2 separate regions of the Homo sapiens genome follow, and region 2 is linked to region 1. A link means that fine-mapping ties the variant in region 1 to the plasma level of a protein whose gene starts in the linked region. Region 1 holds a variant in brackets. A gene starts in the other region. All regions are shown on one strand. Distances are between the middles of the regions. Region 1 overlaps PDIA5 (protein disulfide isomerase family A member 5). Region 2 holds the start of GP5 (glycoprotein V platelet).

Evidence for each region. PIP is the posterior inclusion probability: the model's chance that the variant is causal. The UK Biobank Pharma Proteomics Project read protein levels with antibody pairs (Olink). The fine-mapping took linkage between variants from a reference panel, not from the people measured, so its PIPs are less certain.
Region 2: GP5 starts here. The variant in region 1 is fine-mapped to the plasma level of the GP5 protein (UK Biobank, PIP 0.92).

The regions. Positions count from the first base shown.
Region 1 is chr3:123,112,607-123,115,515 of GRCh38, forward strand. All of the region lies in intron 7 of PDIA5 (protein disulfide isomerase family A member 5), which reads left to right. Among named protein-coding and RNA genes, the nearest start is that of PDIA5, 47 kb to the left of the region's middle. The variant C/T (reference allele first, on the strand shown) is at 1,550.
Region 2 is chr3:194,398,094-194,400,946 of GRCh38, forward strand. GP5 (glycoprotein V platelet) reads right to left here and starts at 1,173. Exons shown (of 2, transcript NM_004488.2): 1 at 1,145-1,173; 2 at 1-191. The coding sequence starts at 189. RefSeq lists enhancers at 2,003-2,556, 2,557-2,853.

The DNA of each region.
Region 1 (2,909 bases):
GGTACCATCTCAGCTCACTGCGACCTCCGCCCCCCGGGTTCAAATGGTTCAAATGATTCTCCTGCCTCAGCTTCCCGAGTAGCTGGGACTATAGGTGCCCGCCATGAGGCCTGGCTAATTTTTGTATATTTTTAGTAGAGATGGGGCTTCACCATGTTGCCCAGGCTGGTCTCAAACTCCTGACCTCAGGTGATCCACCCACCTCGGCCTCCCAAAGTGCTGGAATTACAGGTGTGAACCACCGTGCCCGGCCCCCCAAGCCCTGTTTTGATTGCTGGGTGTCCTCCAGCCCCAGCCTCCTCCCCAGGCCTCCTCGCTGGCCCCAGGGCTGTGCTTACCTTTGGGATGAGGCCCTGGTGTCTCACTTGCTGTAGATCCAGCTCTGCCCTGAATGGTAGCTACTTTAACCCTCGCTCCTTCTCTTTATTAATGTTCATTAGTTGGTTTCACCCCTTTTTGTTTCTTCTTGGAGGAATATTACTAACTACCCAGCTGTGAATTGCTTTAGGAATTATTCTGTCCACACAGCCCCTAGAGGATGGGCCTCCTTTGGTATATCTTAAAGCCCTTCAGGACTCAACACATTGGTTAAATGAAGCTGTAAAATGGAGTGTATATCAATATGCAGTGCGTGCCACAAGACGGCATCCGGGTGTAACCAGGCAGGTCTCAGTGTGATGCCATTAGTCATTTAGAAGTGTGCACGGGCAGTTTGCGCCCGTGTGCTGTGCCCTCTCCCGCCATGCACCCAGGCTGTGTGGCAGTGTGCCCATCCCATCCTTCACGACAGAGAGGTGAGCACAGTTATCATCTTTACAGAAGAGAAAGCTGGGGCAGGGGAAATTAGGTACCTCACAGAGTCACAAAGCTTATTGGTGGTAGGGGAGGGAGGAGAAAACTCGGAGGTTAAGTTCAACTTTTGGTGGAGGGTCAGATCGGTTGCACTCCTAGGTCCCAAGGAACCTCGGGACCCTTTTTTTGATTATGCACGTGTGTATGATTTTTTACAAAATGAAACAAACTTGTGCTTTTAGCACACTAGTCTAATCAAGTCTCCATGGCATCATAATTCAGCTGATTCCTGGGATACACAGCAGTTCCCTAACTGGGACGTCTGTTAGGACTCTGTGACCCTTTGGTCACATGTTGGGTGAATGGGCCCAAAGGCAGTGAGAACCTTTGGTGGTGACAAGGAACCTGGCTCCCCAGGATCTACCGCTTATTCAGGAAATGTTTGCTCACTGAATTAATAAGAAAATAAAAAGGCTGACTACTCTGACTTTTGAGGTTTGAGAATGATAATTAGTCTTACCTCTCCCCCTGCCTCCCAGTGGAATCAGCTGGAAGATAAACTCAGGAAGCACAGGGCCAGCCCTATTTTTGGTAAAGTTAAATTGGAAACTGGCTTGGCCTGTGGTTTCCTACTCCTCCTGCATCACCTCTCCCCAACCAATAACTTCTCCACCCAGCACCACTGGCCCTGCCCACAGGGACAACTGGCCGACTTATCCTCTGTTTCAGGGTGTTATTGCTGCAGGCTGCAAACAGG[C/T]GAAACAGGAAGAGAGAGGCCACACTGTGGAGACAGATAGTAAATAAAGTTCTTGATAGATGAATGTGGCCCAGTGGGGGTCAGACTGAAGTCACTGAGCGAAGAATGAGTGAAAGGCTGCAGGTGTCCCCCCTTATTTTCCCTCCTGGGGAGTGCAGCGACATCCTCTTCCCTCAGTGGAAGTGTTTCCCCCACCATGGACTGGGAAGCACCCCCCCAAATCCTGGCATTGGACTAAGATGTCTCTGCAGGCACTGAATGTTCCCCGGCTCTATCTAACACCTGCAGGGCACCTATCCCCACTGCACAGATAGGGAAGCCGAGGCTTGGAGAGCCCAGGCCACTTGCCCAAGATCACCCAGCCAGTGGGAGTTATGGGGAGATGCAGACCTCGGTCTCAGCCTTGTTCTTCCCAGAGCTGAGCTCCTTCCTCTGCGCCATCTGCAGCCTCCTGTTTTCCACCCGGTGCATTTCCCCCTGAGCGTTGTTCCTGCTTCTGTTCTCCTCTTTCTGAATCCCCACAATGGAAACAATGCCCCTGACAAGTGTCATATTCCTTCCTTCATGCCACTGATGGTGTTCGCACTGAGGTGGCAGGTCCTGAGGAGAGGTGCCTCTTATCTTCTGAGGGCAGATTCGGCGGGCTCGCGCTGCAGGCTGGCCTCGAAACAGCTCCTTTTCTCCTGCCAGGACTGATGGCAGAACTTAAGCCCAGGGTTCGCGTACTGGGGTGTGTGTGAGTCCATCTGTCAGACAGGAATGTCAGGAGGGGGCTGTGGGGCAGTTTTGGAGCCTCATGGCCAAATGTCCTGTGTCTGCATCTTGTCCGGTAGGCTTGGTGCTGGGGAGGTTCTGGTGGCCCAGAAGGAATGTTGGCCTTCTGGCTTCACGGCCTGTCTAGGCGTCAGCTAAGCATGGATTGGAGCTGGGCTGCCTGTCGCCACATGGACCCTGTGCCCGCTGTGCCAAGCTGAGATCAGCCTGACACATGGTTCCAGGCAGCTTTGGTTCTGTGCTCTTCAGATGCATCTTAAGCCCTGTTTTGTAGCAGAGAGGCAGTCGGAAAGGGTAATAGCCTGGCACTTCAGAATCCCTGCTGTCTGAGGAAACTGCTCATGTCCTGTGGGATCAGTGCTGAAATGTGGTCTGCTCTGGTTTAAGGGAAGGAGTTTAAGGTCACTCTAAAGTTTTAGTGGATGTTTGGGACCTGGCCTTCCTGGTCGCTTGAGTCCAGGAGTTCAAGGCCCCCTATCAAGGCTGTGGGTCTTCACCACTAGGAGAGGAGTGTGACCATGGTAGACCACAGAGCCCCGGAGGGCTGAGCCAAGGCCATCGCAGACAGAATCCTTTGCTGTCAGAG
Region 2 (2,853 bases), 71 Mb after region 1:
GCCGCGGCCCATTCCGAAGAGCAGGATGTGCGTGAGGTTGGTGGGCAGGCCTAGCGCGGAGATGCGCGCCACGTCGCCCCCCGAGCACTGCGCGGCGTCCCGGAAGACACACTTGCAAGCTGGCGGACAGGGGAAGGGCTGGGCGCGCAGAAGCCCGAGCACCGCGCACAGTAGAGTCCCCCTCAGCATGTCTGAAAAAGCAACCGTGGGAGTGTGGTCAACACACAGGAGCGTTCGCGCCTGTACTGAACCCTGGGATCCTGCACTTTGTGCAGAGGCACAATCCTTTCGCCAGAATTCTCACTCCCTCTTTTCTTAGGACTACAGATTTCCCTACGTGGTGAAAAGACACTCATTCTACACTGCGTGGCCTCATGCTTTTGCTTTATTGATTTTCCACTCTCAGTTTAAAGCATTGAGATTACAGAGTTTTCAAGCTACCGAATAGCCAATACTTTAAAGTCCTTACATAGAGAATTAAAATAATCATTCTCACATTCAAGCTCACAGACATCACAAAGCAATGTCCATTGTGAAAACGGCTCTGCTCTTGACTTTATAACTTACCCTGCATTGGCTATAACCAACAGTCAAGAAGGGAACAGCAAAGTCTGCAGCCACCACCATCTGATTCTTTTGCTCACAATCATGCTATTTCCACAGTACCAAGTTACTCTATTAAAGGACACCCCCAAAACAGCGAACACCTTCAATCAACAGCCAACAAAAGCATATAATAATACCTATCACTTTACGCCATGCATTGTTCTCAGCTCTTTATTTATACTACATGCATTTAATCCTTACAATAACCTTAGGAGGTAAGTATATTATCCCCGATTCAAGGATGAAGGCACAGAGGCACAGAAAGGCTCAACAGTATAACTAGGGTCACATAGAATTTGAGGGTAGTATTTCTGACTTAGCCATAAAGAGCTACTATTTCTAAGATGCTTAACTAAAGGTAATACTCACGGCACTGAATTTTCTGGGAAATGCACACCATACTACTAACCTGCCAAAACAATGTTTCCTAAGCGAAATTTTACATAAATTGCTTCTCGTGCAATTTTACTTCTCATGCACACACAGACTAAAGAGCCCTCTAATTTCCTATACTAATGTTTAAAATATTTGGCCTTACCTGAAATGGTTCTGCACTCCAAAGTAACTGAAAGACTTAGAGCTCTGCATGTGATTCGACACTTTCCACAGGAAGAGGGTGGTATCCTTGCATCCTGAGGATAAAGACTTTACCAGAGTAGGTCAGGAAAGGACCCTATCTCAGAGCCCTTGTTCTGGTTTTTAATGACAAATATCTTCAAACCGAGAGACCATATATAACCTGATTCCTACTGTCAAAGCCAAGAGCAGTGGGGAGAGTTTTTCCATAAATGGCACAATATAACTCTATGATGCCAGGGAAGTTCAGTGATACAGCTGGATCACTGCAGTAGCCACACCCCTAGATGGGCCACACTTCCCCTGGGTCTTCCTTTTCATGCCACATGGCCCTAATTTCCCACCCAGGTTTTTTTTTTTTTTTTTTTTTTTTTTTTTTTTTTTTTTGGTATGTGTTGTTTTTCTTTCTCCGCTTAGCAATAAAGCTAAGAACATTCTCAAATCCTCCATTTTTTTCTTCCTTTTGGGACTAATAAGGCTAAGAACATCTTTGAACTTGTTCAACAATGGCATTGCTAGGTTGCAGGATGCTCACTTGTTGTTTTTTTGGTGGGGGAGGGGGACTCTGTCGCCCAGGCTGGGGTGCAGTGGTGCGATCTCGGCTCACTGCAACCTCCTGCTCCCTGGTTCAAGCAATTCTCCTGCCTCGGCCTCACAAGTAGCTGGGATTACAGGCACACACCATCACGCCCAGCTAATTTTTTGTATTTTAGTAGAGACGGGGTTTTACCGTGTTGCCCTGGCTGGTCTTGAACTCCTGAGCTCAGGCAATCCGCCCGCCTCGGCCTCCCAAACTGCTGGGATTACAGGCATGAGCCACCACGCCCGGCCGCTCACATGTTCAGTTTAACTGGGGAAAGTCAAACTGCTCTCCAAAGTGGTTGTGTTGGTCTACGATGACACCTGCCATTTGTGAGAGTTCCTGTGCTTCCTCTCTGCCCACACGTGGCACTTCCTGCTTTTTGCCATTTCTATGAAAGATATCTCAGCATGATTTTAACTTTTCCTTTCCCTGTTTAATGATGAACTTGAACACCTTTTCACATAATTAAGGCCCACTTGTGCTTCATTTGAGAAAGCTGGGTTTCCTTTTGCCCATTTGTCTATAGGCAAAACGTGTCTACGTGTCTTTTGAACACACTGATAATGCTGTCTGCATTAAGACTTCCGGCCAGCCGCCCTGTCCGGGAGGGAGGTGGGGGGGTCAGCCCCCCGCCCGGCCGGCCGCCCCATCCGGGAGGTGAGGGGCGCCTCTGCCCGGCCGCCCCTACTGGGAAGTGAGGACCCCTCTGCCCGGCCAGCCGCCCCATCCGGGAGGTGGGGGGCGCTTCTGCCCGGCCGCCCCTACTGGGAAGTGAGGAGCCCCTCTGCCCGGCCACGACCCCGTCTGGGAGGTGTGCCTAGCGGCTCATTGGGGATGGGCCATGATGACAATGGCAGTTTTGTGGAATAGAAAGGCGGGAAGGGTGGGGAAAAAATTGAGAAATCGGATGGTTGCCGGGTCTGTGTGGATAGAAGTAGACATGGGAGACTTTTCATTTTGTTCTGTACTAAGAAAAATTCTTCTGCCTTGGGATCCTGTTGATCTGTGACCTTATCCCCAACCCTGTGCTCTCTGAAACATGTGCTGTGTCCACTCAGGGTTAAATGGATTAAGGGCGGTGCAAGATG